2 separate regions of the Homo sapiens genome follow, and region 1 is linked to region 2. Evidence: fine-mapped expression QTL. A gene starts in region 2. The other region holds a variant in brackets. All regions are shown on one strand. Distances are from middle to middle. Region 1 overlaps FRMPD2 (FERM and PDZ domain containing 2). Region 2 holds the start of FRMPD2 (FERM and PDZ domain containing 2).

What was found. PIP is the estimated chance that this variant, and not a neighbour inherited with it, causes the effect. A credible set is the group of variants that fine-mapping cannot tell apart.
Region 1: its variant is the best candidate, but not a certain one, in a credible set for the expression of FRMPD2 in cerebellar hemisphere (GTEx, PIP 0.89).

The regions. Positions count from the first base shown.
Region 1 is chr10:48,172,706-48,177,100 of GRCh38, forward strand. It overlaps FRMPD2 (FERM and PDZ domain containing 2), which reads right to left. Exons shown (of 29, transcript NM_001018071.4): 23 at 3,141-3,234; 24 at 2,165-2,250; 25 at 241-388. Among named protein-coding and RNA genes, the nearest start is that of FRMPD2, 100 kb to the right of the region's middle. The variant G/T (reference allele first, on the strand shown) is at 2,467.
Region 2 is chr10:48,272,885-48,277,279 of GRCh38, forward strand. It overlaps FRMPD2 (FERM and PDZ domain containing 2), which reads right to left and starts at 1,812. Exons shown (of 29, transcript NM_001018071.4): 1 at 1,659-1,812. The coding sequence starts at 1,683.

The DNA.
Region 1 (4,395 bases), 100 kb before region 2:
GAAGGCTGGGGGCAGAAAGATGCCTAGAAATAATTTGGGGAAAATGCATTTGTTTCCAGAAACCTATTCCATGAGATGGGCTTCCATGGCATGAAAAAGCAGATCTCAGCATGATCACTATGGCTCGCTTTCTTTTCAGGACCCAGAGGAAGCCTTCCTGCCTTTCCCTTTTGACTTGACAATTCAAAAGCGGCACACAATAACATGACAATAGTAACACTCAATTCTCTCCCCTCTCACCATCTGTCACTGAGACACAGCTCGAAGGCCTGCCAGGCAAGGCTGTTACCAAGGAAACAGCCGTGCGTTCATCTCCCATGCTGTCATTAGCAGAAGGACACTGCTGTGTACTCCTGGGGACTCTTCTCTCTAAGACCAGTCTTGCAACCTAGAAGGAAAGGTGAACAAACTCAGTTTACACTTCATATGGCAACCAGGAGGCACTCCCTTGACTCTGCAAATGCTTCTTAATTTTCGAATCCTTCCTATAAGCAGACTCATTTGAATCTCTCAACTAGCCTATATATTGGGATCTAGACCCAGATTTCTCAGTGCTTATTAGACAAGTGCACCTGAAAGCAACACATGTACCTCCACTTCACACATGCAGTGCCACACTCATCTTCCTCCCCTCACTCACCCTCACTTCCCCTCCTCGTTCTTCCTAAAACACTCCTCCCCTCGCATTGGCTCACCCCACCATTAACCTGCCAAGGGCCACATTTGGAGTGGTCCAGCTCTCCCCCATCTGGTTTCTAAGATGTGAACATTCCCCATCAAGAACAGCTCCTCAGTGCCCCCTCCCCTCCACCTCCTCTCTCACTGCCAGTGACCCGCTGGGCCGTGGCAAGCTCTGGTTACCTTGGCTCACTGGACCCTGTCTGCACCCTTCTTGGTCCACCCCATCATGGCTGCCAGTGAATTGGTCTAAGACAAAAACTGAACATGCAACATTCTTGATTTAAAGTCTCCAATGCTTCCCATCACCTAAGACCCAAACCCATGGCACCCCAGGTCTGTACCACCTGCCCTCCCCTTTCTTTCCAATGTGATTTCCCACATTTCTCCCCACAACACCATATACCCTTGTCGCCCTAAGTGTGATTCAAGAACCAGCAGATAGACATCACCTGGAAGCTTCTCAGAAATGCCAAGCTCCCATTCAGGGCATGTGGCCCTGCCTTCATCTTCCTGTTGCACCTGTCACTCAGCACCTGGCCCAGGATCCCAGAGGGACAATTCCTACCTGCTTAAGCTGCCAGGAGGCCAGCCAAGTACCCTCTCTACCCATGCTCATTAGCAAAGGTCTAAATATCAGAAGGTGCCAATAAATTATGGCTCTGTTCTCAAGATAGGTCAACCAAAGTCACTAATATAAGCAAATTTCACCAGACACCAGAAAACCGCTTTGGGAAAGAAAGCGAAAAGTGGCCAGAACATTGCCCCAAGCTTGCTGGAAGGGCCTTCAGGAATCCCTCCTGTCTCTGTTGACTTTTTAGTTGCCAAAAGAGGGTGATGCCAGCTCTGTGGCTCAGGACACAGAGGCAGTTAGAGGCTCCTAACCTCAGGCAGAGGACTCGGCACAGTGGGATAACATCGAGTCACTGCGGGGCAGGGAATAAAGGGGACATAAAGGATGAATGGCTCTGCTCTTGGCACCCTGAATTCCTACCTCATTGTGAGGAAAAGAATCCCAGGACACTCTGACCCACGCCCTGGTGGGTACAACACAGGGTGAGGGGGAATGGCATGAACAGGGAACGGAGTGGGGTCATCCTATGCAAACGTAGGGAGGTAAGAAGGCCCATGGACACAGGGCCAGCGGGGCTGGGGCAGCCAGAGCCAGGCTAGAGCAGTCTCTTCACTCCATCTTCTCCATTCCGCTGTCTGATTCCAGAATTCAGGCAAGCCACCAGTAAGTTTCTAAGGCTATCTATGGGGGGTGAGATTTTTTTTACTCAGAAACATCTATCTGCTATCTCCTGGGTTTCACATCCCCATAGAAAAGTGAGGGTAAGAAGAAATGGAAGAGAAAAAAAAAACTAACAAAGAAAAAGTCTTGTTTCTTGCCTGCCTCCCTCCCACCCAGAGGCGATTTCAGCTTCTGATGTTGTTCAGGAAAGTTCCGGAAGGAGGGGAAGCTGGTCAGCAACAGTCCACTCACCTGCCCAGGACCCGTCAGGCACTGCACAGCCTGCTTGTGGGTGAGGCCGCACAGAATCACTCCATCCACCTGCAGGAGTCGGTCACCTGGGAAAGGGATAGATGTCATGTCATGACCTGGTGCTTGAGGCTGCAGGAGGTTCCCTTCCAGGAGGCCCCTGCCCGGCACCCCTCCATGCAGCCTGGAGAAGTGGGAAAGGAAGCTGAGGTGCCAGGTGTCCCCCTGGAGTCAGCAGGAATCCTGCCTCTCTGAGCAGTCTCACTCCCTTCTTCTCAGGCACATCACAGATCAGGGATATAAAA[G/T]CCTTTCTATTATTGGCTCACAGAATGGTTGAGCCAGCTCTGTTCAACCTTATCCTTCCTCCTGTTTTCCTGTGAAACCATTTTTGGAAGTATTTTCAAGTCACTTAGATATTTATATCTCCAGCATGTATTTTTTTTATTTCAAAAAAAGGTCAGGGAGGCATGGTTGACGCTGGGGACACCAGAATTCTAGGGGAAATGGAGATAAGTAAGATCCTAGGTTCCCCTTTTGGCTCAATTCTGGCAGTTTTGGAGACCAGTAAAAATCACCCCCTTCCATCAGAGAAGTGGGAGCTGAGCAAGGGCAAACAGAAGGCTCAGGTGTCCTCCCCGGATGTGCGAGTGAGTTTACCGAGGCCCACTTGTCCTCCAAGGGAAGCAGTATGTTTTCCCATGGAGGCCAAAGAGCAACACAAGTCTTTTAAGTCTTCTACTATTTTTCTATCACCTATGCTTCCCAGTGTGCCACTGCAGACCCCCCAACCTATCAAATGGGCAGGGCAGGTTCTATCACCTCCTTTCCAGGTGAGAAAAGTATGACCTGGGGAGGCAATCATTTGCATGAGTTTTCAGAATGGGAGCAGGGCAAGGCCTAGAGGCTGCCCCTCCCAGTGCAGGGCTCTTTACACCATGGAGCACAGAGTTCCCAATGAGGACCCATCCCCATCTCTCACCCTGTAGGATCTGCCCTTCCTTGGCAGCTGGTCCTCCAGGAACAATGGATTTCACATAGATACCACCATATGGCACACTGGTGTTAATGCCACCCTGAAAAACACAACAAAAAACTCACCACCCATCTTTCCTCCTCCAGGAAGCCTCCCCAACCTCCCCAGCTAAGGGAATCCCCACCTGCCCACCACTCTATCCCATGACCTTACCTCCGACTGGCACTGTCTTCTGTATTCACCTGTTCGTTTAGATTGTATTCTCCACTGAGCAATAAGATTAGGTGTTCATAAGCTTAACAATAGCAACTATGTGAGAGATCTGGGCATGTCCCCAGCCCAAGCACTGGTACAAGGCGGGTGCTCAGCAACTGCTCACGTGGGATGCACCACTATCTCTATATAGGTAGTGACCAGCGTAGGTGGATATGGCTGTGGGCCTGAAGGCTTGTGCCTGGCACGTCTTGTGTGCTTTGATGGGCCAAAGGATATGTGCATTTTTCATTATAATACATGTTGCCAGATTGCATCCCTATGTGAATATGGATATACTTATTCACATTTCTACCAGCTTTGTATGACAGTACCATTTTTCTACATTCCACCAGCTATATTTGGCCAAGCTGGTAGACATAAAGTTTAAAATTTTATTTTAATTTAATTTGTATTCCTGTGGCTTTTCACGGGTTTGAGTGTTTTTCATGTGTTTAATGGCCATTTGGATTTGAGTGAGACATTTCAAGAATTATTTTTGAAATTAAATATCTGCAAAGAAAATCCAAGTTTTTGCCAGCCAAAGGAAATCATCAACCTCTTCTCAGCAAATATATATTTGTGAATAACCCAAAATTTAGTCAGTTTTTCAGATGAAAAATAGCTATGTTTGGTGTCTGATAAGGCTGTTACCCCAAGCCAAGAATAAATGGACCATATTTGGTATCAGCCTGTTCACTCCATGTGGATTCATGAGCCTTATTGCTTGGTTTCTTACTTGGTCCCTTAAAATCATCTACTGATGACAAATTCATTGCAGGCTTAGGGTCCAAGAAAACACATATTCTTGCTCTAGGTACATAGCATTATCACAGGGGAAAGCAAAGAATGCCCTCCATTCACATATCTCTTGAATTTCCTCTGAAAATTTTCATCAGCCATAGAGTGTCCTTACTTTGGTGGGAGATGTCATTCTATTTCCCATCAACAGTTAAATCCAACAATGACATTCCTGAAATCCAGACCCATTCCAGGGTCTGAAGGTAAT
Region 2 (4,395 bases):
CTTGTCAATGTAAACAAAAATATCAACCAACATTCATATTGGAACTACATTCAGTGGTCAATTGCAAACAGGCTGACCAAGGGTATAAGAGTTCAGCAAAAATCAACAAATGCATGCTGTGAGAATCAAATGGCTATATAGAATTTGTAATAAAGAGTATTTTATATTTTATTACTTGTAAATTGTGCAATATACATCCTTCATATCAGTAAAATTTATAATGAACTTATTAGATGCATATGTATTTGTTTTTGCTCACAGTGCTGGCAGCACCAGCTTGGAGACCTCCCCTTCTCTACATTCCACTGTTGTTTTCTTAGGTTAGGCCATCTGTCATCATTCCAGGTTTCATCCTCTCCAATCCCACACCCATATTGCTACTAGATTAATCTTCTTAATATTAAATGCAGACACGACACATCCTTCATTAAAACTACCAGTGCCTATCTGGGACCTTCTGAGTGAACTCTGGGCCATAGAAGGCCTTCCTTGCTCTCCCCTGTTCACCTCTGCAGCCTCCTTTCTTATCAGATTCCCCTGTTCCCACTTTACTAAAGTTAGGCCAAACTGCCTGCTGTTCCCAGAGCATGCTTTACTTATTCATGCCACTGGGCCTTTGCATGTGCTTTTCTCTGCTTGGGATGCCTTTTCCAATCCCCCTGCTCCCAACTCCTGCTAGTGTTCGCTTAGCATTAAAGCCATGCTCAAGCAACACCTCTCCCAGGAGCCCGTGCCACCTCCATTTCGGCACTTGCTATCACCGCCAGTTTTCATGCAGGTCCAGCATTCTGCCCCCCGACCCCCACTGTCCTACAACCTGGAAGATCCTCTGGGCTGGGGGAGACATCCCCAGCATTTGGCATGTGGCCCCAGGAGATACCAAGTAAGTTCTCGTTGAATTAATGAACTACTTAATTGGTTTCAGCTACAGCCTATAGCAAATCACAGGATTTAGCCAGGAGAAATAGACACGACTCATCTCTGAACTCAATTGTTGCTTTAAAAAAAAAAAAAAGTTGTTTACACTGTTGAAAACCTCAACTGAGTTTTTTCTTTCCTTTAAGCATACAAATAAAGCCAGGTGAATCATTTCTTTTCCATTGTTTTCTGGAAGTCAGCTAGGCATACCCTGAGTCTTCTTACTTTAAACCACTGATACTCTTTAAGCAATAACCAAAACACTTGCTTCTGAAAGATAGTGACAGCCATGATTTACTGGGCTACTCAAATGCTCCAAGTATGTTCTAAGTGCCTTACGCGTGTCACCCCATGAATCCTCAGCAACATCGTAACGCATGGGGCATTATTATCCCCATTTTACAGGTAAGAAAAACGAGTCTTAGGAAAGTTAAAAGAGTCATTTGAATTTGCACAGATGCTGAATAGCAAAGCAGTGATTCAAACAAGGGGTGGTCTGATTCTAAAGTCCATGTTTTCTCTTCTGAGCCCATTCTTTATTGCTAAAAAACAAATACAATGTCTATCAGGCTTAGCCAATGGCCTGGAACAAATAATACTCCAAATAATACCACAAAGGGCACTGACACAGGTCCTTGCCCAGCTGTGTTCTTCTTATTCCGGATACCTAGACCCAGTAAGAAGTTTGCCCTTTCCCTGACCAGATTTATAGGAGAAAACTGAATGATGCCAAGGAATACCTGCGTCCTTCGTTAAAGGCTGCATCCAAAAGTCTCCGTGACCAGGTCTAGGCCTTCATCATGGGACAACTTTCCAACAAGGAGCAGGGGTCTCTTGCAAGTCTGTCCGCGGAGCTCCCTGCCACCAGCACTGTTGCCGCTGTCTTTGTTTACTGCTTGTCACTAAGCACTTGCTGCCCAGCGAGTGAGTCAACAAGGCCCCTTCCCTTTCCTGCCACCACTCTCATTCCCTGGGTCCTGCGCAGTCTCTGGCCTGTTAGCAGGCACTGCCACCCCAGCAGCCTGCGTCCTCAAAGCCAGTGACCCGTGAGAGAGCCAGGAAGAGCTCAAGTGGATTAGGTGCCACTGAAGGCAATGGGATTGCTGCTCAGCAGGGCTTTTACGCTGATGTCTCTTTATCTCCTGGCCCAATCAAAAGAAAGAGCTCTGCAAGGAACTGGGGGCAGCCCCAGAGCAGAGGCTTAGTGTCATCAACTCAAGAGTCCTCCATGCCCTTTCATAGTGTCAGACATTGGACCTGCAACCAACAGGACAGGGAACCATGTGAAAGCAGCAGGAGGAAATGATAACCTGGATCTGTCTGTGAGAAAGCAAGAAAAATGTGGTTAGAGAAAGGGGGAAAGGAATTCTTACTCTTTCTGGTGCTTGGATTCAGAAAGGAACCAGCAGAGATGGGGAACAGCAAGAAGTAGATCATAGCTCTGTAGTAGAAGGGGCAAAAGAACAGATCTCTCAAGCCCTTTAAATCAATAGCAGTGTCAAAACTGAGACGTATTTATTTAAAAAGAAAACATGAGTTTTTGCCTGACTACAGAATAAAATACTAAAATTTGAGGCCGGGCACAGTGGCTCATGCCTGTAATCCCAGCACTTTGGGAGGCCAAGGCGGGCAGATCACGAGGTCAGGAGATCGAGACCATCCTGGCTAACATGGCAAAACCCCGTCTCTACTAAAAATACAAAAAATTAGCTGGGCCTGGAGGCGGGTGCCTGTAGTCCCAGCTACTCCGGAGGCTGAGGCAGAAGAATGGCGTGAACCTGGGAGGCGGAGCTTGCAGTGAGCCAAGATCGGGCCACTGCACTCCAGCCTGGGTGACAGAGCGAGACTCTGTCTCGAAAAAAAAATCTGATGAAACTCAGTGCTGGTGAGGGCATGGAGAATGAGTACTCTCATATGCCAATAGTGAGATTACAGATAAGTGCAACTTCTCTGCAGGGAATTTGGTAATATTCATCAAATTTGTAAATGTACATATCCTTTGTAAACCCAGCTGCTAAGAAGTAACCCCATGGACATTCTTGCAAAAGTTCACCAAAGCATCTGAGAAAGGATGCTCTTTGCAGTGTATTTTGGTAGTAGCAGAAAACTGAAAGCCACTGAAGTGCCCATCAACAGTGATTATTGTAGTTCACACACAGTAGAAAACCAGCTATGCAGCTGTGTAAAGGAAGGAAGTAGATCTGTGTGTGCTGGCATATAACAATTGCCTAGAAAATTCTTTAAGTGACAAAAGGTATGGAATAGCCTAGTATGTTTCCTTTTATTACAAATAGGTACATAAAGACCAGGTATATTTACGTATATTTATGTATACATATTCTTTATACACTGTAGTATATTAGAATATTATGTAGACATATTCTTGTGGTTCTGGAAGGAATCACAAGCAACTTAATAGTGGTTGCTAGGGGAAAGAGTTTTGGCTCATTATTTAGTCAGGAAAATTATTGTTCATTTTGGTATTTTCCCCCTATAACCTTATGTTATATTACTTGAAAAAAACTAAAAAACACAATGTTTTACATTTTTTTCTGCTTAAAGCTATCTATATTGACATTCCCTGCTAGCTAGCAAAACATTTCACAATATCTGCAACAATCTTTTACTGTTTTTTCCAAACTTGTCTTCTCATCAGATTCAGCCTTGAAGACGATAAAATGCAGATTCCCAGGCACCACCCTGAATCTGCTGAACCTGAATCTCTGGGCCCGAGCCAGAGCATCTGTATTTTCAGCAAGTGTCCAGGTAATTTTTATTTAGTAATTTTTTCAGGCTGACCACGCAACCTTTCTCCCAGAAGAAGAAAGTTGACTTCTCCAGTCATGTGGCTCGTTCACAACAGAACAAAAAGCAACACCTAAGTCATCTGCCAACAGGTAAATGCTGGTCTGCTTAAAGTCACCACCACTTTCACTTTTTCTGTTAAAAATACTAGCAGTAACCCCCTTCTATTGTTGCTCTGCTAACATTTCATTAAGTCCATTTTTTTGCATAAAAATTTTATCAATGTGTTTTTGTTTTTCAAGTTATCAAAGCTAATAGTTTCTCTCTGAGTTATCTCTGTGTCATTCCCTATATAATTTTGTTATATTTTATATATTTTTATTTTTTAAGGTTATTTTCCTGTCAAAATTCTTTATTGCGTATGATCATTTAAAAAAAAAACTTTATTTTAGGTTCGAGAGTACATGTGAAGTTTTGTTACAGAGGTAAACTCATGTCATGGGGGTTTGTTGTACAGATTATTTCATCACCCAGATATTAAGCCCAGTACCCAGTAGTTATTGGTTCTCTGTCTACTCACACCCCCCCAACCCTCAGGTAGACCCCAGTGTCTGTTGTTTCCTTCTTTGTGCTCATAGTTCTCACGATCCAGCTCCCACTTATAAGTGAGAACATACTGTATTTCATTTTCTGTACATGAATTAGTTTGCTAAGAATAATAGCCTCCAGCTC